Linked DNA regions of Homo sapiens. The protein of the gene in region 2 purifies or fractionates together with the protein of the main gene of each other region. This does not show direct contact. Each region holds a gene or a part of one and is shown on either strand. Other genes may lie near its edges.

The links.
Region 1: the proteins of COBLL1 (region 2) and WDR11 fractionate together in Homo sapiens (co-fractionation; one large-scale study listed by BioGRID). This does not show direct contact.
Region 3: the proteins of COBLL1 (region 2) and HMBOX1 purify together in Homo sapiens (affinity purification with mass spectrometry, with the first as the bait; one large-scale study listed by BioGRID). This does not show direct contact.
Region 4: the proteins of COBLL1 (region 2) and BLTP3B purify together in Homo sapiens (affinity purification with mass spectrometry, with the first as the bait; one large-scale study listed by BioGRID). This does not show direct contact.
Region 5: the proteins of COBLL1 (region 2) and NUP93 fractionate together in Homo sapiens (co-fractionation; one large-scale study listed by BioGRID). This does not show direct contact.
Region 6: the proteins of COBLL1 (region 2) and CDADC1 purify together in Homo sapiens (affinity purification with mass spectrometry, with the first as the bait; one large-scale study listed by BioGRID). This does not show direct contact.
Region 7: the proteins of COBLL1 (region 2) and AMOTL1 purify together in Homo sapiens (affinity purification with mass spectrometry, with the first as the bait; one large-scale study listed by BioGRID). This does not show direct contact.

The regions. Positions count from the first base shown.
Region 1 is NC_000010.11:120,885,862-120,889,361, reverse strand, and holds part of WDR11 (WD repeat-containing protein 11), read right to left. Parts: coding exon 3,424-3,500; intron 2,674-3,423; coding exon 2,526-2,673; intron 285-2,525; coding exon 178-284; intron 1-177. UniProt on the Homo sapiens protein: Involved in the Hedgehog (Hh) signaling pathway, is essential for normal ciliogenesis.
Region 2 is NC_000002.12:164,835,324-164,838,823, reverse strand, and holds part of COBLL1 (cordon-bleu protein-like 1), read left to right. Parts: intron 1-3,500.
Region 3 is NC_000008.11:28,896,895-28,900,394, reverse strand, and holds part of HMBOX1 (homeobox-containing protein 1), read right to left. Parts: intron 1-3,500. UniProt on the Homo sapiens protein: Binds directly to 5'-TTAGGG-3' repeats in telomeric DNA. Associates with the telomerase complex at sites of active telomere processing and positively regulates telomere elongation.
Region 4 is NC_000012.12:100,087,375-100,090,874, forward strand, and holds part of BLTP3B (bridge-like lipid transfer protein family member 3B), read right to left. Parts: intron 1,722-3,500; coding exon 1,541-1,721; intron 1-1,540. UniProt on the Homo sapiens protein: Tube-forming lipid transport protein which mediates the transfer of lipids between membranes at organelle contact sites. Required for retrograde traffic of vesicle clusters in the early endocytic pathway to the Golgi complex.
Region 5 is NC_000016.10:56,736,629-56,740,128, reverse strand, and holds part of NUP93 (nuclear pore complex protein Nup93), read right to left. Parts: intron 1-3,500. UniProt on the Homo sapiens protein: Plays a role in the nuclear pore complex (NPC) assembly and/or maintenance. May anchor nucleoporins, but not NUP153 and TPR, to the NPC. During renal development, regulates podocyte migration and proliferation through SMAD4 signaling.
Region 6 is NC_000013.11:49,271,925-49,275,424, reverse strand, and holds part of CDADC1 (cytidine and dCMP deaminase domain-containing protein 1), read right to left. Parts: intron 1,135-3,500; coding exon 1,085-1,134; intron 1-1,084. UniProt on the Homo sapiens protein: Catalyzes the deamination of cytidine and deoxycytidine into uridine and deoxyuridine, respectively. May play an important role in testicular development and spermatogenesis.
Region 7 is NC_000011.10:94,862,356-94,865,855, reverse strand, and holds part of AMOTL1 (angiomotin-like protein 1), read right to left. Parts: intron 1,122-3,500; coding exon 996-1,121; intron 1-995. UniProt on the Homo sapiens protein: Inhibits the Wnt/beta-catenin signaling pathway, probably by recruiting CTNNB1 to recycling endosomes and hence preventing its translocation to the nucleus.

The DNA.
Region 1 (3,500 bases), on a different chromosome or scaffold from region 2:
GGTGGCTGAGGCAGGAGAATGGCATGAACCCGGGAGTCAGAGCTTGCAGTGAGCCGAGATTGCACCACTGCACTCCAGCCTGGGCGACAGAGCAAGACACCATCTCAACAAAACAAAACAAAAAGATTTCATTTCTTTTTTTTAATGAAATAACAAGATTTCATTCTTGGCTTATACCTGGATACTCTGCCTTTCAAGTCCCAGAAATTTAAATTTCCATCCATATCTCCAAGCACTAATGTATCACCTTTCCAAGCGATGCAGGTAATACTACCCATACTTCCCTAGAAAACAACAGCAACAAACAAATATAAATTTCACTATGCTGTATAAGACATTATAATAAATATTTTAATAAAACTTAATTTAAAGGGCTGTGCTTTAGTATGCTTTTAGTCATCAAATCCTAAAACAGACTTTAGACACTAACAAAGAGCTACATTGCCTATCAATTTCAACTATGAAGAAATAGGAGATTTCAACTTCATAGACATTAAGTAGTTACTGGAACTAGATTTAAAGAGAGGGGATGTCTTTTGAGGAACAAATACCTCAAAAAAAAAAGGGGGAAATTAAAGTAAGAAAAACAGAGAAGTAAAGGGAAGGTTTTCCAGAGAGCCAACTCAAACTTATCTCTCACTGCAAAAGGATAACTAAATCCATTCCAAGGGAAACTTAAAGCTCTTTTATAACTAATTGTGCCGTGATTTTTCTATTGAAAAAAGGATCCAGAGCTTCACTGACACGTTTTGGAACATTGTGGAATCATGAAGGTGAAGAGATGCTGTTTACTAAAGGCATATGCAGTTTAAATTCACAGAAAGCTTTGCTCAGAAGTTACATATAGAAGCACAACATAAGAATGAAATGCTGCTGTAGTCAATCTAACTTGGAGGAAGAAAGGAACTTGCAGTTCTAATAGATGCTCAGAGGTGGTATCATGGAGGGCTCAGCAGCCTGGGCTCTGCAGTCACACTGCCTGGGCTTGAATCCCAGCTTGAAACTGGTATGTGATTTGAGGCATGTTTACTTAACCTTTCTGTCTTGGATTTATTGTCCATAAAGTAGGGTAAGTTCATGAAACTTGAGTTGTTGCTAGTATTAATAAATTTATAAAGGCAAAGGCCTTAAAGCAATGCCTGCCATGCAGTAAATAGTCAATACATGTTAGCTATTAAATAATATTACTGCTCAATTACTTCTCTATTTATTAAAAGAAATTTTATTTTTGCATTTATTGTACAACATAAAAATTCAAATGGTATCCATGGTAAAAAGTAAGAAAACTCTAGTGGTTTGAATAATTGACCATTAGTGGACTAGCACACACACTGAATACCGTAAAAACTCTGGTAATAGTCAAGAAACAAAACAAAAACTGGATTTAAAAATCAATATTATAATAAAGTCCATTAATAAAAAAAAATATTAAAGAAATGAAATTCTGTATATAATATGAAGCAACATTTTAAGATATCTACTTTCCTAGCCATAAAATAGAATGTTTAATTAAGAAGTTGCCTTTGAAGAGACTTCTGAAACCAGGTCATAATAGACTCTGCAACTTCCTTCTTGCTTTATCAGATCACTTACTCTAGGGGAGGCCAGTTGTCATGTCGTGAGGACACTCAAGCAGCCTTATGGAAAGATCGACATGAAGAACTAAGGTCCCTCGTCAACAGCCAGCATTAATGTGCAATAGCCTGTGAGGCAGCCAACTTGGAAATAGATCCTTCTGTCCCATTACACTTCAAAAGACTGTAGCCACAGCCAACATCTAGATTGTAACTTTATGAGACCCCAAAGCCACCTATAAAATTATGGGGGTTGGCATTCTACTAGAGCATTCCATTTTTAGATAGCAATTTAAAATAAATATACCTATTTTAAAAAATCCCCTCATGCCTTCATTTAACCATTATAATAGCCTGCATTAATTAACATAAACATTTTCATGATCCATCTATTAAAAACTATCTATGAGATGCATGCTGACACAAATGATTAATGGCAAAACTTTAGTTACAGATTCCACAAGGCCATAAGAATATATGTAAGTTAGTAAATGTTAATAATACTATTACACTTACAACCTGATTACTATTATCCAAAAATAATACTAGATTGTAAGTCAAATCCTTCAGGGTAATGCCTGAAATGGAAAGAAGACAGATACTGAAGTCAGACAGGCCTGAGTTTAAAACACTGCTCTGCCATATGAGTAAGCTGGATAACTTTGGGAAAGTTACTTATTCTCCCACAGTTTTGTTATGGGTAAAATGGAGATAACTCCTCATGGATTATTACAGGGATAAAAATGAGTAGCACACAGTAAACATTTAATCAAAATAGTTACAGCGTTATTCTCTAGCAGTATGGAACAAGTTTAATCGATAATATCTCCTTAAATAAAGTTTATTTACATTAGGCTTTTCTGAAGTTTCCAACTTAACTATGCCTTCACTGGATATGGAACCAACAAAACAAAATCTTCTTGATGAAGATTTAATCAAGGTTGTACTCACATCTGGTGGAATCCGAGCACTGTCTTTTACTGAGTTTCCTTCAACAGTGAGATGATACACTTGGCCATCAATATCGGTAAATACAAAATGTTCCCGGGCAGAGATGTTCTGACTAAGTTCAGATTTACTTTCTGCCTCCTGCAGCAAGCTTTGGGATAGTGAAACATATGATAAAGATGTTTTTTTTTCCCCTAGAGTGATACTCATAATTAATTAACTTGCCCAAAGTACAGACGCATTAAGAGGAGGTCCAAAACTATTTTTTTAAAAGTCTGAAACTAATATTTGCCCAGCTAATTATGGGTAAACATGAATCACTCCTTAACAGCCACAACATCAGAGGAAGTTTACCCTGCACAGAGAGAAATGGTGATCTAAACTTAACACAAGAAAAATAAAATTCATAGAGATTTTGGCTATAGAACTGTGCTCAACAGAAGGGAGGCTGTACAGTGACCCAACATTATCTCTGAAGCCTTTTATCTGTAAGATTGGTATGGATGGGGATGATACACAAATTTAGGATTCCCAACACATTTTCTTTGGTGTGTATAAATGATAATATGATCTATCTGTATGTCTATGCTATGTTCATTTGAATTTCAGAAGCTGAAGTGTATGGAGTAGAAGGGCACTCGGAATGAGCACATTTACTACTAGATGCTGATGGGTGAATATTACTGCATATGTTATTAGTTATAACAAACAGTATAGTACAATACTAAAAATGATAAAATTATCTTTTTAGTAATCTGGGTATGTACTGAAAGATGAAACTAAGTATGTTCAAAAGCAGAGTCCAACTTGCTACCATAGACACCTTCCGATGATACTTGTCAACTTCCCAGACATGATGCTAATGGCACAAATGACAGTGTCAAGAAACACTGTACTGTACCTGATCACAGATGATTCAACAATACTCAGCTCTGTGTCTGAGACTACGGTCTGGCGGGCCATGGCCTCTCGAGTTGC
Region 2 (3,500 bases):
TGACTAATTATATCATAACTCATTACTTTAATAGACAATGAAGCCTAGTTTAGTCTTTATCCTTGGATATTACTGTTGGAAAGAATTCCTCTGTAATTTTCCAAGTTTTACATTGTTGTAACATGTCATTTTAACATAGCACCAAGTTTTGTTCTCCACATTTTATAAATGAGAATCTGAAGCTCAGAAACACTGAGTGTGTTGAAGTCCCAGCAAATTAGTAGTAAAACCAGAAGAAAAACTCCAAGTGCCTAGTTCATTTTGTTAATTGCTTTTTATCTTTTCTTGACCATGGTATGATATAACATACCATGACGTTATACATTTTAACGGATAACTTATATTTAACCATTAACTCTGTAATATTTTAATACATTTCAGGAAAAATGTAGTTGATATCCTTATCTTCACTTTTATTAATTCTATGATAAATTAGCCCATTCAGGGAATGAGTATTTTAGGAAAATAAAATTGTTTTATGGCCTCTCAGCTGCTGCTTTTTCTTTGAAACATTCTAAATAATAATTGTAACATCAAAAGGGATAGTTTGAAGTTTGTTTGGTGCCTTCACACATTTAACTCGCATTTAGCATTCTACGACATTGTGAATTATATGGGTTGGGTGTCATTTTCTTTTCAGTGGAAGCAATGGTGTGCAGAAATAGTGGCTGCCGTAGGGTCTGTGCTGGTGAAGTCCCTGCCTTAAAAGGGTCTGATCCTGTGGTCATCTTGAATGTCTTTCATTTTGGCCTCTACTGTACTGCTTTAATCCCTTACCATTCTAGATTAGATCCCTTTCTTTTGAGACAGGCTGGAGTCTTGCTATGTTGCCCAGGCTGACCTTGACCTCTTGGGCCCAAGTGATCCTCCCACCTCAGCCTCCTGCATGGCCGAGACTACAGTCACAAGCCACTGTGCCTGGCTTTAGATCACTTTCTTAGTAACATGCAGAAGTATCCACTTTATATTTGTTGTTCTGTATCTTATGGGCTTCTTTTTGGAATTCGTTATGAGGTTAAGAGTTTAGATATCAAAAGACATTGAGTCACAACAGTTTCGGTTTTCCTTCGAGAAAAAAGATTGCATGCAACTTTATATATATTCAAATGTAATATGTACATTCATATATAATTACATATTTTATGTATACTATACATATACATACATATATACTCCTATCTAATTCATGTATATATGTTTTCATATGTATGTGAAAGTTGACTGGTTTAACTTACATAGTGATCTAGATGAAAAATGATAAATCATTTTTATATTTGTTTCTATGAAGTGGAAATCCTAGGTTGGTTTGCGTTTTTTTTTTGCAGAGAGCAAAAATGTTGGAGACACTGGTTGGAAAATTGAAATGCTGCATTGGAGAAGAGAGCGATAGTCAAAAGTAATTTCCTTCTCTAACGTGGATATCCAATTAGTAAATTTATTTAAGTTTTCTATATTAGTACTTAGTAAAGTGACATTAATCACTTAGAAAAAGCAACATGATTGCTGACATCAACTTGGGTGCTTATCTTTGGAACTAGTGCTTATGTTCTTTACTTGCCCAGATATGCTTTAAAAAAAAAAATCCTTCGAAATTTAAATGTCAAAAGCTTAATTGACCTTGCTCTGAGGGATCTTAATATTTTGATTCTGAAGCACATTTTCAGGAATGTACAGAGGGGACAAAAGCTCTCTTTATCATTTTGCAGCTTTGGAGCTATGGAGTTAATTGAAGGCATACGAAAAATTAAAGAATGATTTAACAGCTGCTTTCTTAAGCTTTTGTTGAGGAGTGTTATTGGTTCTAAAGTTTCACTGATTGTATGAACTGAGTTCTTGAATACTTGAAGTTGAGTGACTTCTCTGAGGTTTCAACATGGGAGTCATCTGGGATACTTTCACACGAATTCTTGGGCTCTCATGCCCCCACCCATTCTGATTTTAATTCTCTTGGTCTGGGACCAGGGGATGGCTAGTTTTAAAATGCTGCTCAGGTGATTGTAGTGTGTGACCAGATTTGAGAATCATTGATTAAGTAGATATCAATAGCTGACATGGAGCTGATGCAAAAAAGAGAATAGAGGCTGTTACTAATCATTTATAGGGAACTCAAGATTGTAACTTTAGCATTATTTTGCCTTTTGAAAGATTCCATGTAGCTGCTTTGCAATATTATTTTTAAAGCTTTTGCTACTTCTTTTTGAATAAGTATATTAACTTCATTTTACAATGAATGAAACTGAGGATCAGAGAGCTTAATTAACACATTGAAGGTCATACAACTCTAAGGAATGGAAGAGTATTAGAAACAAGCTCTGATTCCAAACCTATGCTTTTCATAGTGCTATGTTTGCTACCATGGATTATACTGAATGGCTAAAAATGATTTTTATTTAAAGTGGCCTTATAAAAGCATTATCTTGATTCTTTTTAAAATTATGTTTACATTTTATATTTAAAAACTATAAATTTCAATGCATATAAAATGTCTAGCATTTAAAAGGAGATTAATTATTTGGCTTATGTCTTCAAAGTAATGTGTAACATATTCCTGTGTATGGTATGATGTAATTTAACTCATAGTAAACTGGCAGTTTTTTTCATCATATGACAAAGTCTATACTTATTTTTTGATATTAGGCAGCTATTAAATGTATAACAATATTTCAAAAGTAGGATTTTTGATTACTGAATAACAAAAATGAAATTATTTATTAAAAATGCTATACTTGCCCTTCAAAATCAATTACCTCTACATGAGTTAGAGGATATTGAATAACAATATTATGACCTTATATTTGTACTGAAACGCCAGATGTGTTAATATAATAATAAATGCCAAACTTCATGTTATTAAGACAACTACTTTTAATTAATCAGTCAAAAACTCCTGAACTCTTACTTTATATAAAACATATTTTTCTAGGTACTGGGAAATAGGCTTCTAATCTTAAGAACTTCACTACAGAAATTATATGTATCTGTAGGAATAAAATGAACATGATGTTAGTGTATAAATGGTACTTTGTTACTGGCTTAAAACATTATGTCTATGCTTAGAATTTAAAATGCAACAGCCTAACTTATGGGTCAGCAAACTATGTCCTGAAAGTCAAAACAGCCCTCTACCTGCTTTTTTATCCCCCTTTTTCTCCATTGTGGTAAAATATGCATAGCATAAAATTTACCATCTTAGCCATTTTTAACTGCATGGTTCAGTGGTGTTAAGCACATTCATATTGTTGAACCATCACCACCTTCCATCATTATAACTCCTTCCATCTGGCAAAACTGAAACCCTATACCCATTAAACAATAACTTCCCCATTCCACTTTCTCCAGCCCCTGAAAACCACCATTCTACTTTGTCTCTGATTTTGACTACTCTAGGTACCTCTTACAAGTGAGATCAAAGTCTGTCTTTTTTTGACTGGCTTATTTCACATAATGTCATACATGTTGTAGTATATATCAGTACTTTATTGCTTTTTATAGCTGAATAA
Region 3 (3,500 bases), on a different chromosome or scaffold from region 2:
GAGGACTATACCAATTAGAATTACCTGATATACTTATGAAGGATATATATTCCTGGGCCCATCTCAGATTTTAGGAATCTGGGGGTAGAACTCAGGAAACAAAATATATATATATATATATATTTTTTTTTTTTTTTTTTGAGACGGAATCTTGCTCTGTAGCCCAGGCTGGAGTGCAGTGGCGCAATCTCAGCTCACTGCAACCTCTGCCTCCCAGTTCCCAGTTCAAGCAATTCTCCTGCCTTAGCCTCCCGAGTAGCTGGGATTACAGGCGCGCCATGATGCCCAGCTAATGTTTTAGTATTTTTAATAGAAACAGGGTTTCACCATGTTGGCCAGGCTGGTCTTGAACTCCTGATCTCATGATCCGCCCACCTCAGCCTCCCAAAGTGCTGGGATTACAGGTGTGAGCCACTGCGCCCAGCCAGAAACTAAAATTTTAATACTTTTTCCAGGCAATTCTTCAACACAAAAGTTGAGATCACTGTTTCCTTCTGTTGTAGCCTAAGTGCTTAGAACTCTGTGACTCCCCAACTATTTATCTCCTGTGGCTTTGTAATCTGACTCCAATCTTCTAGGTTCCTTAGTTGCCTATCCTTGACTTGTACTTATTTCTAAAAATCTTGGCCCTGGTTTGGTAATATAATAAAGACTTGGATATGGAAATTTTAGCTCTGAAGTCCATATAAACTCCAATACTGACATAGGAATAAAAAGCTCCAGTTCCTTTCCCTGAAATCATGGAGCTTTTGTTAAATATCACCTATGGTGTTGACTGGACATTGGATTGACCCAGTATGTCAATTCTTTTGTTGCCAGATCTGCAGAGAACAAGATGCTCACTACTACAGACTCAACTATTTGAATTCCTGCTTATTGTCTCTAAAGAAAGAAGGCACAAATTTTCTTGTCAGGGATGAATGACATTTGCTAAGAGAACAGTTGTCACTATATAGATAGAGGGTGCCTATGAGAATGTTCCAGTTCCTAGAGTAGTGATGAAATGAGTTCTCCTAAGATGTCTCTAGATCTTAATGATGGGACAAAAGAATGTCTACTTGATATGAATAAGAGCTTCTTTATTCAATAAGGGATAGTCTTTGATAGCAGCAATGAGGATCCTGATACAATGGCTTCTAGATACTTTCATGCTTAGTAGGTTAGTGATCCAAACTGTAGAGATAGTACGTTCATGTATCCAGGGCTACCTCTCATTCTCCTTCCTTAATCCTAGCTAGTTCTTATAGTCCTACTTTGTCATCTTTCTGGTTTGCCTGAGGTGACTAGAATAAAAAGCAAATCTTAAATTATAGGAGTCTTTTGCTATTTCCAGCAAACTGATCCTTGCAGAAAAGGATTAAATCCAACCTATCTTTGTATCCCACAAAGTACCTCATCACGCACTGCTAGACTTGACATGTTTAACTGAGTGCCTTGTTCAACACCAACAAGAGAACCCTCCTCATAAAAAGCATCTAAAAGCTTAAGCCTCATATAAAAGGTGCTTTCCACGCTACCTCCCACCAAGGTCACGGGATAAGGATAGACATTTAAGTCATGGTGGTCATGCAATGCATTCAGATTTCTCTCTTGCCAACTGAACTAAAAGAAACACACTGTCACCATCAACAGGTAAACTCTAGTTGAAAGAACAGTTCAAGTCAACACCATGGCAAATCAAATCCACTTACCAGTCAGAGAAGCAGAGACTATGAAAAACCAGGGCAATACAAACAGAACTGGAAGGGAGAAGTGAGAAAGGGAGATGAAGCAGACATGGAAGGAGATGCTGAGACAAGAAACCATTTATCACCAGAACGAGAGCTTGAGAGACTAGCTTCTCAGATTCCTAACGTTTCTCCCATTCACACAAGGTCTAGTCACTCTTCTTCAACCCAAAACAGCTGAATCCCTACAACGCCTGTCCTTGAAGCCAAATGATCCCTAATTCAAGCATTATTTTTTAGTACGTACACCAAGACAAATAGAAAGCTAGAAACATAAATCCAAGGAGGAAAAAATAATTCTACCAGGAAAAAACTGAAATCACAGGTAGCCAAAAAGCTTTGTAAATATGAATCTTATTTATCAGGAAGTACCATCAATATTTGTCATATTCCTGCTAATGAAACAAATTAAACTTTGTCTTTTTTTAATAGAAATTATCACAGTATTGACAAATGAAAAATTGTCTCAAACCCAGAGAAGACAAAAATCAGGTGATCTACCTTTATTTGTTAATACATTTGAAAATATTTTGTTAGCCTGTTTAAAGCAGACTTCCGTTGTTGTCTGTAATAATCGATAGTATATTGGATTAACAGCCTCATCTTTTAAGACAGGCTTTATAATCATATGGCTGATTAAGGGGCAGCAAAGTATAACCAACCCTGTAACTATCCTTTAACTTGTACCTAACAAAAATAGTAACCATAACCTCCCCTTTTATTCTGTAAAGATCCTTTTTCTGAAAATATCTTTGAACTAACTTCCTTTAAAGCTAGTTCCCTTGCAACAAGTACAAAATAAAACTATGACATATGCTGACAATCAATTAATCTGACAAGTTTGCATTAACACTGTCAAAACCAAACTAATGTCAAAATAGCTGTAATTTTGGTTATCTAACACAGATTCTAACATATCCTCTCTAGCAACAAACATACCATGTAAGCCTTGAATTTATTTAAAATTTAAATCTTTTTTTGTTTGTTTGTTTGAGATAGAGTCTCGCTCTGTTGCCCAATCTGGTGTGCAGTGGCGCCACCTTGGCTCACTGCAACCTCCGCCTCCCAGGTTCAAGTGATTCTCCTGCCTCAGCCTCCTGAGTAGCTGGGAGTACAGGTGTGTGCCACCACGCCCGGCTATATTTTTGTATTTTTAGTAGAGGCAAAGTTTCACCATGTTGGTCAGGCTGGTCTTGAACTCCTGACCTCATGATCCATCTGCCTTGGCCTCCCAAAGTGCCGGGATTACCGGCATGAGCCACCACGCCCAGCCTCATTTAAATCTTACACATTTTATTTGTGGACAATTTCAATGTTATCGTTAACTTTTACCAGAAAATTTTAATGGGTCCTAATATTATAATTCCTCATTTAAAAAAAAAAAACTAGCCGACCAGTGGCTTACGCCTGTAATCCCAGCACTTTGGGAGGCCAAGGCGGGTGGATCACCTGAGGGGGGATTCGAGACCAGCATGACCAACATGGAGAAACCCCGTCTCTATTAAAACTACAAAATTAGCCGGGCATGGTGGCGCATGCCCATAATCCCAGCTACTCAGGAAGGCTGAGGCAGGAGAATCACTTGAACCTGGGTGGCAGAAGTTGCGGTGAGATGACATCGCGCCATTGTACTCCAGCCTGGGTAACAAGAGCGAAACTCCATCTCAAAAAAAAGAAAAAAAAAAAAAACCTAGCCAATATTCAGATTCTCATAACAAAAAAAAAAATTGGTATGTTTGCAATGTCAGGTTCATCTAAAAAATAAACTTTTAA
Region 4 (3,500 bases), on a different chromosome or scaffold from region 2:
GTAAAATCCAATTTATCTCAACTAGTAGAATTTTCAGCACAGGTCTACAATCCCTTACGTAAAACCTTTGGAAAGCCAAATGTTTCAGAATTCAGAAATGTTTAGATTTCACGACAGTAATATGATACGGTATATACAGGATATACCATGCAACACTCTCAGCAGGTTCTGAGGCAGCACTAATAAAAATAGCAATTCTGCAGCAAAACATAAATATTTATAGGAAGCAGGCAAAGAATAAAAAAAAGTATTGGCATAAGTCAGGTTTTGCCACCAAATGAGTTTTTCACAAACTTATAATATTTCAGAGCCTTTTGGATTTCACAATAGTGATTACAGACCTGTACTATTAAGGAGATATTTTGGTGAAAAGGTTTTCTTCCTAAATAAAATCATTCAATTTATTCTATCAGGGAATAGTGAGGAATGTAAGGCCTTAGAAAACACTTTCTCCATTCTCATTCTTACTACTTAATCTTGACCACCTCATTTTCTTAGTTTGGTTTGTTCTAACTTTTTTGGATTTTCCTTTCAAATCTCTAAAGTAAAAGATGCCAACTATAAGTCAAATGACACAATGGTAGTCAGAACAAAAGATAACAAATCCCTCCACAAACCCCGAATCTTCCTCACCTTTGCCCCTCCAACCTTTTAGGCTGGAATCTTTTAGGCTGCCTTGTCTAATGAAGGCAGGGTAACTTCTACTGCTAAGTATCCAGGGTCTCAATATTCACTTTCTCAGCTTAAAAACACATGGCAAAAATTTTTGTAGATATAGATCCTGATTCAGATCTGAGGCACAGAGATCAGATAACTCTATTGTTTAAAGGTCTTCAGCCTGATTCTAATGCTCACCAAAGTTTGAGAATTATAGTCCTTAAGGTAGGCCTACCTGCTGAACTCAACCCCAACACTTCTGGGCCAGGGATGCTCTCCAGCAGAGAAACAAAAACGCCCAGCGCCTAGATTACAGAACTACATCTACTAAATAAGGAAAAATAACAGGGACAAAAACTAAAAGAAAATTCCTAACTGGAATTTTGCTTCCTAATCAAATTTTGGAAGGATGGGAAGAGAGGTGGCCATAAAATATGTTAAATAGTTGCACAGTTGTGCTTCTATTCAAAATAGGTAGAAAAACTGCAATGCTGAAAACACATCTACAAATAATTATGAATTAAGTATGGACTAAAATTTAATTTGGAGACAATTTCAACATTATCAAAAAGTTAATTCAAAGGCGAGTCTAATATTTCATCATCCTCCTAGAGGATCATCTATTCAGTCTGATTTTTTTAAAGCTAATTTTATTGTTAGCATTGATAGCTAACAAATAATTAAGCTTAAGTACTGCTAAAGCAAAATAAAATTTCATACCAATATATGCTTCCAGTTGTGCCTTTCATCTATATATTCATATGAACACAATTATGACAAATTATCTTACAGGACATCCTACACAACAGATTTAATAAACAATCCAGTTTTGTAGTCAATTCTAGAAAAACCAAAATAGTTTGAAATAAGCAAGTTATTTTACCTTTTTCTTTAGCATGAATGTCATCACATATGTGTAGATCTAGATGAGAAATCACTAAATGATGGGAGGTTTCCTTAACATCAAAATCATTGAATAGTTTCACAATTGCATCATTTACATCAGGAGCATTTGAAGTTTGCGTTGTCTTCACTTGCTGGGCAGATGCGACTACTGTAGAGCTCTAAAAAGATTCGAAACTGCCTTATCACTGCCAATTTAAATACTGGAAATTTCACACAAAAATCTAAGTATTTTCAGTCGAAAGTCATGAAAAATAACCATAGTACATCTTATTTTTCATCAATAATATATTTTCCCTAAAATATTTTCTGAATTACCTAAGAATAAAACTAAAATTTAAAAACGGTAAAACTAGGCTCATGCCTGTAATCACAACACTTTGGGAGGCCGAGGCAGGCGAATCATCTGAGGTCAGGAGTTCAAGACCAGCCTCGCTAACATGCTGAAACCCCATTTCTACTAAAAATATAAAAAATTAGCTGGGCGTGGTGCCGCATGCCTGTAATCCCAGCTACTTGGGAGGCTGAGGCAGGAGAATCACTTGAACCCGGGAGACAGAGGCTGCAGTGAGCTGAGACCGTGCCACTGCACTCCAGCCTGGGTAACAGAGCGAGACTCCATCTCAAAAAAACAAAAACAAAAACAAAAAAACAAACAAAAAAACTGTAAAACTATACACAAATCAAATATGAACCCAATATATCTCAGTAAATATCTGAAGTTATATTTAACATATTTATAGCCCTTGTTTTAGAAAATGTAGTTAACTCTTAAAGGCAGTTTATTTGAATATTATATATATTAAAAACAAAACAAATGTGGGCCCTGTATACACTGTTATATATCTGATATGGTTTGGCCCTGTGTCCCCACCCAAATCTCATCTTGAATGGTAGTCCCACAATTCCCACGTGTTGTGGGAGAGACCTGGTGGGAGATAATTCAATCATGGGGGTGGCTTCCCCCATACTGTTCTGGTGGTAGTAAATAAGTCTCACGAGATCTGATGGTTTATCAGGGGTTTCTGCTTTTGCAGCTTCCTCATTGTTTCTTTGACTGCTGCCATCCATGTAAAATGGGACTTGATCCTCCTTGCCTTTCACCACGATTACGAGGCTTCCCCAGCCACATGGAACTGTAAGTAGATTGCCCTGTCTCGGGTATGTCTTTATCAGCAGCGTGAAAAGGGACTAATATGATATCCTATAGAAATAAAGCACATCTTTGTAGAAGCCCCTGTGATATTATTTAGTACTCTAAGTGCTCTGGTGCCTCTCCTAAAAGATGTGGTATGTCCTTTGAACTTGAATAACTAAAGAAGCCAGAAAGGAGACAGGATTTATAAATAGGTTGTGAGTTCAAATATTTTTCTCCCTGAAGAGAAATAGTATAGAACCCTGTTGATATATAAAAATAAATATGAACCTCTAATAGCCTAAAATTATTTTGTATACATAACTATAATGTAAGATTATCTGACATATGAGCCACAAAACTGTAGATGAATTTTTATAATAATTATAAGACCAAATTTTCCACTTTAAAAATTAACAATGTTCAAATTTAGAACAAGTTATTAACTAAAGATAATTAAAGAAAATCAAAGTATATGTATTTTGCATGTATATATATTTACACATATTACATCTATGAAGAACTATGATCATACTGTAAAAGAACTGCAAAGTATACTTAGTAAATGAGAATCTCTTCATGAAAATGATTGCAGCCCAAGGTAAGTAAAGAAACAAAGTGAAATATAGCTGTAAAACGTTAAATACTATAGACTCCAGAAAACTTTTTATTAATTAATTGTTAAACTGATATCAAACACTTTTTCTCCTGCTTTTCCCATTTTCAAAGCTATAACAAGACTGTATTTATGTCTATGATGGTGCTATTTAAAATACTCTCCGGTACTTCTTTCATTATGTTTTCT
Region 5 (3,500 bases), on a different chromosome or scaffold from region 2:
GTCAGCCCCCCGCCTGGCCAGCCGCCCCGTCCGGGAGGGAGGTGGGGGGGTGAGCCCTCCGCCCGGCCAGCCGCCCCGTCTGGGAGGTGAGGGGCGCCTCTGCCCCGCCGCCCCTACTGGGAAGTGAGGAGCCCCTCTGCCCGGCCAGCCGCCCCGTCCGGGAGGGAGGTGGGGGGGGTCGGCCCCCCGCCCGGCCAGCCGCCCCGTCCGGGAGGGAGGTGGGGGGGTCAGCCCCCCGCCTGGCCAGCCGCCCCGTCCGGGAGGGAGGTCGGGGGGTGAGCCCTCCGCCCGGCCAGCCGCCCCGTCTGGGAGGTGAGGGGCGCCTCTGCCCGGCCGCCCCTACTGGGAAGTGAGGAGCCCCTCTGCCCGGCCAGCCGCCCCGTCCGGGAGGGAGGTGGGGGGGTCGGCCCCCCGCCCGGCCAGCCGCCCCGTCCGGGAGGGAGGTGGGGGGGTCAGCCCTCCGCCCGGCCAGCCGCCCCGTCCGGGAGGGAGGTGGGGATGTCGGCCCCCCGCCCGGCCAGCCGCCCCATCCGGGAGGGAGGTGGGGGGGTCAGCCCCCCGCCCGGCCAGCCGCCCCGTCCGGGAGGGAGGTGGGGGGGGGTCAGCCCCCCCGCCCGGCCAGCCGCCCCGTCCGGGAGGTGAGGGGTGCCTCTGCCCGGCCGCCCCTACTGGGAAGTGAGGAGCCCCTCTGCCCGGCCAGCCGCCCCGTCCGGGAGGGAGGTTGGGGGGTCAGCCCCCCGCCCGGCCAGCCGCCCCGTCCGGGAGGGAGGTGGGGGGGGTCAGCCCCCCTGCCCGGCCAGCCGCCCCGTCCGGGAGGTGAGGGGCGCCTCTGCCCGGCCGCCCCTACTGGGAAGTGAGGAGCCCCTCTGCCCGGCCACCACCCCGTCTGGGAGGTGTGCCCAACAGCTCATTGAGAACGGGCCAGGATGACAATGGCGGCTTTGTGGAATAGAAAGGCGGGAAAGGTGGGGAAAAGATTGAGAAATCGGATGGTTGCCGTGTCTGTGTAGAAAGAAGTAGACATGGGAGACTTTTCATTTTGTTCTGCACTAAGAAAAATTCCTCTGCCTTGGGATCCTGTTGATCTGTGACCTTACCCCCAACCCTGTGCTCTCTGAAACATGTGCTGTGTTGTCCACTCAGGATTAAATGGATTAAGGGCGGTGCAAAAAAAAAAAAAAAAGAAATTTAGCATTTAATTTTAAGCAGAAACTCTGCCCTCAAACCTTATTAATCAGACTATGACAGGAGTAAAACACAAGAATGGTGTTCAACATTCTTGTGAATGATTCTTTCTTTTCTCATCCAAGATTGATGAGAAAAACCTCCACCCAAGGTATCAAAAGTTTAATACTGATTCTGTTCTCCTCTCTTTTGAATACATAAACTAGCTAGATGACAATATCATTCCACTTTTTACTATTATCTGTCAGCTGTCAATTACAACAACAACCCCAAAAAAATTAAATCTTGACAGACATCATTGTTTCAGATGCCTCTGGAAGAGAGAGGAGAGGGAAAAAAAAATTGTTGGAAAGTTCTTTACAGCCCTGTGAGACTAAGTAAAAGAGACCTTATCATTATTCAAAAGGTAGAGTTCTGGAGAAAACAAAGACCTAAAATAAATTAACCTAGACAGAAGAAAAAGACTTGGGTGATTTAGTAGCAGTACTGCCCTCAGTGACTCAATGTTTGCAATAAGGAATGGGTAGTATCAGCTTTCCTGATACATAAAATATCACTTGTATTATTTCCTCTTCAATGAGCAAAGAGAAGTAATAACCTGGCATCACAAAGAAAAATAAATTATCCACATAGTAACTTTCTGATAAACTCTTGGCTGTCCAGCAGAAGGCCCAGCTGGGAAGAAAGTGCTGTGGACTACAGCTTGGCTCCATCCCACGCCAGCCCTCTGACCCTGGGGCTGGATCGTCTCTGGATGAGGGGGTTGCTCAGGTGATCTCTAAGGGCCTGCTCACCTTAAAGAATTTACAAATGTGAGATGTTTTAATTCGGTCTTTAAACTTACTTGATGCTTCCTGGGAAACAGCCCCATTTTAGTGGTGATGGAAATTATCTCTACAGAGAACCTTAGGAATGATACTAGTTCTGTCTTACAACTAGCATAAACAGGGGCAGATCACCAAGTCGGCCCCAAAGGGCCTGTGGCTTTGGCTCTGGCTCTGGCTCTTCTCTCTAAACCAATGCTACTCAACTTTGCCCCACAGGGGACATTCAGCAATAGCTAGAGACATTTTTGGTTGTCACAACTTGGGAGGCAGAAGGTGTGCGGATTCTAACAAAAGTCTGGGTCCCTACCATTATAATTTTAAAACCATTGCATTTACAGAATTATCCCACTTGGGCTTTTTATGGCAGTATATTCATACCTTGGTATACCACACACAGCAATGGAAAAGAAACTACAGACTACACAGAACATGGATGAATTTCACAGACATCACAATGAGCTGAAGAAGCCAGATACAAAAAGAAAAAAAAAAAAGCACCGTATGACTCCATTTATATGGATCTTAAAAACAGAAAAAATGAATCTATGGGACTAAAGATCAGAATACTGGTTATCCTTGGGAGTGTAGGGGGAGTGCTGATTGGGAGAAAGCACAGCAGAGCTTTTCGGGTACTAAGGACTGAACTGTATTCTCTCAGAATTCCTGTGTTGAAGCCCTACCCCACAATGTGATGCTATTTGGAGATGGGGTCTTTGGGAAGTAATTAGACTCAGATGAGGTGACGTGGGTGGGGTCTTCAGGATGGGATAAGTGCCCTTAGACACACCAGAAAGCTTGCTTTCCTCCACCTACCTCTCCCCACACATACACATCAAAGAAAGGTCTTGACTACACACTGAGCAGCGAGGAAGAGGGCCCTCACCAGAACCCAACTATGCTGGCATCCTGATCTCGGACTTCCAGCCTCCAAAACTGTGAGGAAATAAATTTCTGTTTAAGCCAGAACAACAGATATTTTGATATTTTATTATGGTGATCTGAGCTGACCAAAGTACCAGAAATGCTTTATATTTCAATATGGACAGTGGTCACATAAGTGAATAAATGTGTAAAAATTCCCTAAGCTGTATACTTAAGGTTGACTCACAGTTTTTTAGAAGGAATAGCAAGAAACAAAGCACTGACTTAGCAAGAAACAACCTAGCATTACCAAGGTGAGAGTTGGGAGACTTTTCTACTTTTCATTTGATTCCCTTGTCAGGGCAAATTCTTTTCCATGAGTATATGTGATCTTACATAATTTTTAATAACTTGTTAATTTTAATATTGCTCTAAATTCCCTACTTCACAGTGTGTGTCTCACCACTGCCCTTGAAGACTCAATGGCAATGACTGTCAAATCCACACCTGCCCCCGTGCACTCAAACTCCAACCGTGAGTTTCCAGGCACCACTGGTGCATCTCCTCTCAAGCACATAACTGTCACACCCACCATGTCTCCAAATGCAGTTATCCACCCCCAACTCC
Region 6 (3,500 bases), on a different chromosome or scaffold from region 2:
GAATTTTAACATTATTAATATTAATATTAAGAATATTCAGGGCAGGCATGGTGGCTCACACCTGTGATCCCAGCACTTTGGGAGGCAGAAGAGGGTGGACTGCTTGAGGCCAGGAGTTCAAGACCAGCCTGGTCAACATGGCAAAATCCCATCTCTACTAAAAATACAAAAATGAGCCAGGTGTGGTGGTACATGCCTATAGTCCCAGCTATTCAAGAGGCTGAGGCATGAGAATCACTTGAATCCAGGAGGCAGAGGTTGCAGTGAGCCAAGATTGCACCACTGCACTCCAGCCTGGGTGACAGAGGGGGACTCTGTCTCAAAAAAAAAAAAAAAAGAATGTTCACCAAGAATATTCATGTTATCCTCCTGGTCCTATTGACTTGCTCTGTCTGAAGAAATTATCTTATTCTTCAAGAATATTATATTAGTAACATTAATAATATTCACCAACAGTATTTACTTATTTTTCCAAGCAAAGGTTCCTCCTCTATGTTCTCATGATATCAGTTATAATTACACTTACATATCAGTTATATTTTACTTCTACATCTCCATCACTAAACTATGAGGCCATAAAATGTGATCTTTAATCCCCAGCATTCACTGTGGCACAGTGCCTAACCTGTAGAGAGTGTTTAACAAATGTTTGCTGAATGAATGCGTCTATCTAGAAAACTGTTGAGGGATGAGCAAATCTTTATAGATCTTCATAAATGCACCATTACAAAAATATTAATATTTTTTTTTTTTTGAGACGGAGTCTCGCTCTGTCACCCAGGCTGGAGTGCAGTGGCACGATCTCTGCTCACAGCAAGCTCGGCCTCCCGGGTTCACACCATTCTCCTGTCTCAGCCTCCCGAGTAGCTGGGACTACAGGCACCCGCCACCACGCCCAGCTAATTTTTGTATTTTTTTTTTTTTTAGTAGAGATGGGGTTTCATTGTGTTAGCCAGGATGGTCTCAATCTCCTGACCTTGTGATCTGCCCGCCTTGGCAGTCAGTAACCTGTAATGCACCGAAGACTGAACTATGTTTAAACAAAATCCAGGTTAAATATTTAAAGAATTGTTTTCATACTTACAGATTTCCCTTCTGCCCAAATGACTGCCCCAACTCCTGTTTTATGATCCTCTGAAAGATATATGGCATTTAACTCAGTAAAAATTATGATATGTTAGTTTTAGAAATATATTTTTCCAAAAGTAATAAAAACTTGTATTGAAACATACTTCATAAATGTAGCAGCAATCCTTGTATCTTCACTAATTACAGAAAAGTATTAAAATAAACACTTTTAAGTATGGAATATGGGAGCTAGGTACCAAATAACTAGAGAGAGTCACTACCAACTCAGTCACACATACGTATGTGGAGGCCACTAAATGGCAGTGTCCACAGTCAGGTCCCTCAAAGCTGTAGCCAGAACTAAGTGCAACTTCATTGATTCTCCATTAACAAGCCGGTTTCTAAACAACTACTTCTGATAGGTGATAAAATTTAATAAAGGTTTCAGAACTAATGGATTTTGTGTAATAACTGTTCACAACAACCAAATTTGTCTTTTCCCAGCATTATTTATACTCTAATCATGGAAAATATATCTTATGAAAATGTTCTTGCTAAGAAAAAAGTTCAAACTTCTCATACGAACATAAACAAATCTTTATGGATCTATCTATCTATTGCTAGAAAGTACATGAAGAGAATTCTGATTTAAACAAAATGTTGTCCTTTCTTTGACCTTCAGTTTACCTTGAGGGAAAAAGAATGCAAGTTAATGACATCTTGCCCATTTCTAAATCAAATAGCAGAAGTTATAAACAAACATAAGATTATAATTTCCCTGTAGAACCAAAACCTTTGCAAAAGTAAAGCTGTACTTCTTAAAACCATTAATCTGAAACAGAAAATTAAAAAACAAAATAGAAATTCTACATATTAAGGATTTACTTTTTCCTTCTATACAATGTTGAGTTTCAAATTTCTAAGACAAATTACACTAATTATGAAAACCATAGTATTTATCAAAATCTTAATAAGGGACTAAGGTAGTTAAGTGGCACATTTACACGTAGAAAATAACAATTATCTGTGAACTTACCCTAAGGCATTTTCATTTTGGGGAGGATTAACTGAAACCGTGGTTTCACCCTACAATTTCCTAAAAGTGAATCCCTCCAATGATAACATTTTTAAATACCTACTTTCCAGTAAAGGTACAAAGAAAATTTGTGCCACAATTGCATTAAAAACTAGAATGAATGTCTTATTAAGAGGTTAACTTTAAAACAGTTATGATACTCTAATAAAATTTCCCATCTCAAATTCAAGCAAACCCTGGTTTTCAAAATTATACCACAAAGCATTTGTATAATTTATGTTAAACATGTTTATTCATGATCTCATTTTTACCCTAAAGGTAAAGCAGATAAAATTTCCATTTCTAGATGCAGAAACAGGCAAAGAAATAGACTAAAACTTAGCCCTCCAGATCCAACCTGCTTGGCCTTTCCTCCACCTTGCACCGTGACATAAAGAATTCCTTGACACAGCCTGGCCAACATGGTGAAACCCCGTCTCTACTAAAAATACAAAAATTAGCCAGGTGTGGTGGTGCATGCCTGTAATCCCAGCTACCTGGGAGGCTGAGGCAGGAGAATTGCTTAAACCTGGGAGGCGGAGGTTGCAGTGAGTTGAGATCGTACCACTTCACTCCAGCCTGGGGGACAGAGCAGAACTCCATCTCAAAAAAAAAAAAAAAAAAGAAAAAGAAATCCTTGACAAAAATTTCCATTTATTGAATGCCTCTTATGTTCCAAGTACTGTGAGAACTGAGGATGCAGTGGTGAGGGAAACTGTAGTCCCTTCCTCATACGACTTACAGTTGGATGGTGAAGGAGAACAGCAACAAGGAAACAAACAGTACTTTATGTGCTGTGCTCTGAAGGAAATAAATGAGGCTGAACAGCAGAGTGCACGAGATGACTTCCTTCTACAGAGTAGAGGGAAAAGGGATTTTGGTGTAAACAAAATTGGGTTCCTTCCTAGACCTTTAGAGTTTAACATGAGTGGGCAAGAATACAAATCAATGGCTTTATGCTCATTTCTAAGGTAAGTGGCAGAAGTTATAAACATAAGATTATATTTGCCTGCAAAACCAAAATCTTTAAAGTTTTATTTAATTTATGCATAAATCTAAAATGAAAAAATAAAAAACCAGAATAAAAATTCTCCATATTAAAAGCCCCCTTTTCTACCATCAACACTGCATATTTTTAATGTTATGTTTCTTAGTCACAGAAGCCACTTTTTCTGTTTCAGCCTGGGGACAGACTAAACCTTGTTAGGAGGAAAAAAAAAATGTGATTTTTCCATCAGCATGCAGCTCTGCTGCCTAGCTAAGGTTGGTTACATCAAGAGAATATTCTTTACTACTTGTCTTTTAAAATAGGAATAAATTTTCATCCATATAAAACAGATTTGATGTCACTCAGCAT
Region 7 (3,500 bases), on a different chromosome or scaffold from region 2:
TAATTGTAATTTAGGGATACAGGATGAAGCACAGTACGAGTCTTCAAATGTTGATAATCTCCAAATTGTTAAGACAGGTCTTTTGTCATATGTCAAAAGAGTACACCTTCTCTGGCACCTTGGGAGACTGGGACTTCAGCGAGGTACAGTTAGAATGACCGTGGCCACATTCCTGGACCGAAGTCGGCTGGGGACCATATTTAGAGGGTCTAGCATTGGCGGTGGGGGCCGGGGGTAGGTAGGGGATAGGGAAGCATAAAAACTCTAAAGCCTCAAACAGGGTGAGCTTTCAGCTAAAGTCAATTTCTCTATTTTCTAAGAAAAAAGAACCAAGATGAACAGGTTCTCTGGTAGAAGATGATTTTTCTGGAAGAATGCTGAGTTATTTTCACAACTTTGATAGTAACTCACTGAGCCTATCTATCAATGGCTCAACTACTCAGCCCTATTTTCACATCTGCAAAATAAGAGGCCTAGGGCTCCCAGGGTTCCACAAGCCCTTAGGTAGTGAAGGGGGACAGGCTAGTTTTATTATGTCAAAAAGTCTGCTGGAAATTTTGTGTAGCCCATCAGAAGAGTGCATTAGCTAAATATGTTCTTTATTTTGGACTGGAATATATAAATTCTGGCTCAAAAACTCTGAATCTTTGGGATATAATGTTTCCCCCTTTCAGCTCATAATGTCATAGAGATAGACACCAAGAAATAACACAGACATCTAAATTCTTCTGTCACTAGACTCAGCCTGCATCTTAAAACCGGCAGGTGACACGCAATTTCCCCCAGAGAACTCCGGCACCAGATCCATTGCTGAGTGGAACCACGTGCTTAGGTTGGAACCTTTTCCTTCTCTCCATGGCACAGCATGGGGGAGGAGAGTTTTTGGAGACCTCATGCTCACAGCCTTTCAGAACAGGACAGAGAAGCAATCTGTTCTGGAAGGCCTGGAGTGTGAATGCAGCGGGCCCCACACGTCACACATAGTCGTCCCTTACGTGTATTCCATGTCCTGACACCTTCTGTTGGCCTGCACCACCTCCTCCTCCTCTTGCCAGATGTGGGCCTCCAGCGAGCTCTCTCCGTAGCTGCCATTCCGTGAGTGGTTGATGATCGTGGTGTCCCTGGCAACACAAGGATATGCGTTTGATCATAGGAAACCTTCTTGCTTTGTCTCAATGCAAACAGACACAGAATGGAGAGGCTGGTGTTCATGCTGGAACAGAGATCAGCTCTGCATCTCGCATTGGCTCATGAAGCCTTTCCCTCCCAATTTCCCCAGCTCAGTTATCAATCTCATCTGATGCCCATACAGAGAAAGGTGTAAATGCTTGTGGAGAGGTGATCACAGGGTGCCGTGCTAAAACTCCACAAACTCCTTCACCCACTTTTCCTCTCCTGAATTCTGTCCAATTCTCTTCCTTAACTAGATAGAATTAAGCAGCATCTAAGGAAAACAAAATAAAATTCAAAAATCAAGTCCCCTCCCCCTTCTGACTACATTATGTATGTAGCTACATGGCATGTTATGAATATGTAAAATGGGCACCTAGAGATTTAATCTACTGACTTATGGACACTATTATTATTATTATTATTATTATTATTGTATTTGTTGGTGTTTCCATGCTTGTACTTTTTCATGCTTGTCCTATACCTCACTTTTCCAATCAGAGTTTAGGTTTTATTTCTGTTTATCATCCATACAGCATAGAATGCCTACTTCAGTATTTTACAGTAAAATGGGGGCTCAGTAAATACTTAAAACTGAGACTGGTCCTCTCAGAGAGTGAGGCTCCAAGCTGAAGTCTTCCTTCATGTTGTATTCTGTCTCACTTCTTGTTTTATGGGCCCTGCCTGGGATGCAGGTCAGGACAATGTAATAGGCATGCCAGGGTCCAGGACAGAAAGAAGAAGGCAGACACTGTCCTTGACAAGTTCAGGTGAGGTGGGTGCAGTGAGGGCAAGGGCAGACACGAGAAGATCAAGAAGCAGTTTCACTGCAAGCATCTGTCTGACTATAAACAACCAGTCACAGATAACTATTCCTGCCACTGGTTTTGACAATTTAATTACTACTAACTAACAATGATTAGTAAAAATAAGATCACTGCATCATCTAAGTGATATAGCTCAAGATGAAAGGCACAATAATGGCTCTGACTACATGAGTATTTAATTAGTAAGACATGATGTAGCCAAGTATTTCACATCTTTTAACTTCATATTCCAATGTACAATCATACTGAAAAACTTTTTTTTTTTTGAGATGGAGTTTCATTCTTGTTGCCCAGACTGGAGTGCAGTGGCGTGATCTCAGCTCACTGCAACCTCCACCTCCTGAGTTCAAGCGATTCTCTTGTCTCAGCCTTCCAAGTAGCTGGGATTACAGACATGCGTCACCACATCTGGCTAATTTTGTATTTTTAGTAGAAATGGTGTTTCACCACGTTGGTCAGGCTGGTCTCAAACTCCTGACCTCAGGTGATTCACCCGCCTCAGCCTCCCAGAGTGCTGGGATTACAGACGTGAGCCACCGCGCCCCGCCTGAAAACTTTAAAGCTTTTTTTTTTTTTTTTACAGAATAGCCCAAAACAGAAAAATAGAGGCCCCTTTAATGACAGCTATCAACATTAATGAGCATTTACTTCATACAGGGACTGGGTAGGGCACGGTACACATGGTCTCTCATTTAGTTCTCACAACTTGTGCACAAGGTATTATTATCCTCAATTTCTAGATGAAGAAACCAGGGTTAGGTGACATTTCCAAGAATACTCAGTTAGTGAATAGTGAAAATGGATTCTAACTCAGGTATTTATGACTCCAAAGTCCATGCCCCTAACCATCGCTCTATACTCCTGCAAGTTTCATATGTCTTTAAGAAGAAGGTCTCAGCAAAGATGAGTAAAGATAAAAACAAACCAGAGGGCATATGTGAGAATGTGGCTCAGAAAAGTGCAAAGTGTCATTGAAAATACACTAAAGGCCAAATGATGTAGAAAGCAAACAAAATGCTTTAAACATATTTGCAAAATTATAAATTCACACTATGGTGCACAAAATCATCAATATAGAAATTAGTGGCTAGAAACATTTTCAACAAATTTACTTTTGGAGACTTTACATGGAGCTGGAAACAAATCTGAAAATTCATGTTTACATTGCCAAGTAAGGAGAGCAAACACAATTAGAGGAAAGCAACTTAGATAGTAAATATATAAAACTCTGAAAGAAATATTACATTGCTTTGAAATTTTTAAAAATTTTCAAAACCTTCTGCACACATAAAAGATAAGCTGACTCTCTAAAAATTCTGACCAACACCATCAAGATGCATAAAGATGGGAAAACCAGTTGGTTTACAGAAGTTATTTTCTTTGTTTAAAAATCATTGATTATAAATATAAAGCATGCATCTGTGGTTGAAAAGTCACAAAACTAATGGCTGGAAATAGTCATTTTTACCAATTTGACTGTGGCCATTTAGCACCTAGTCAATA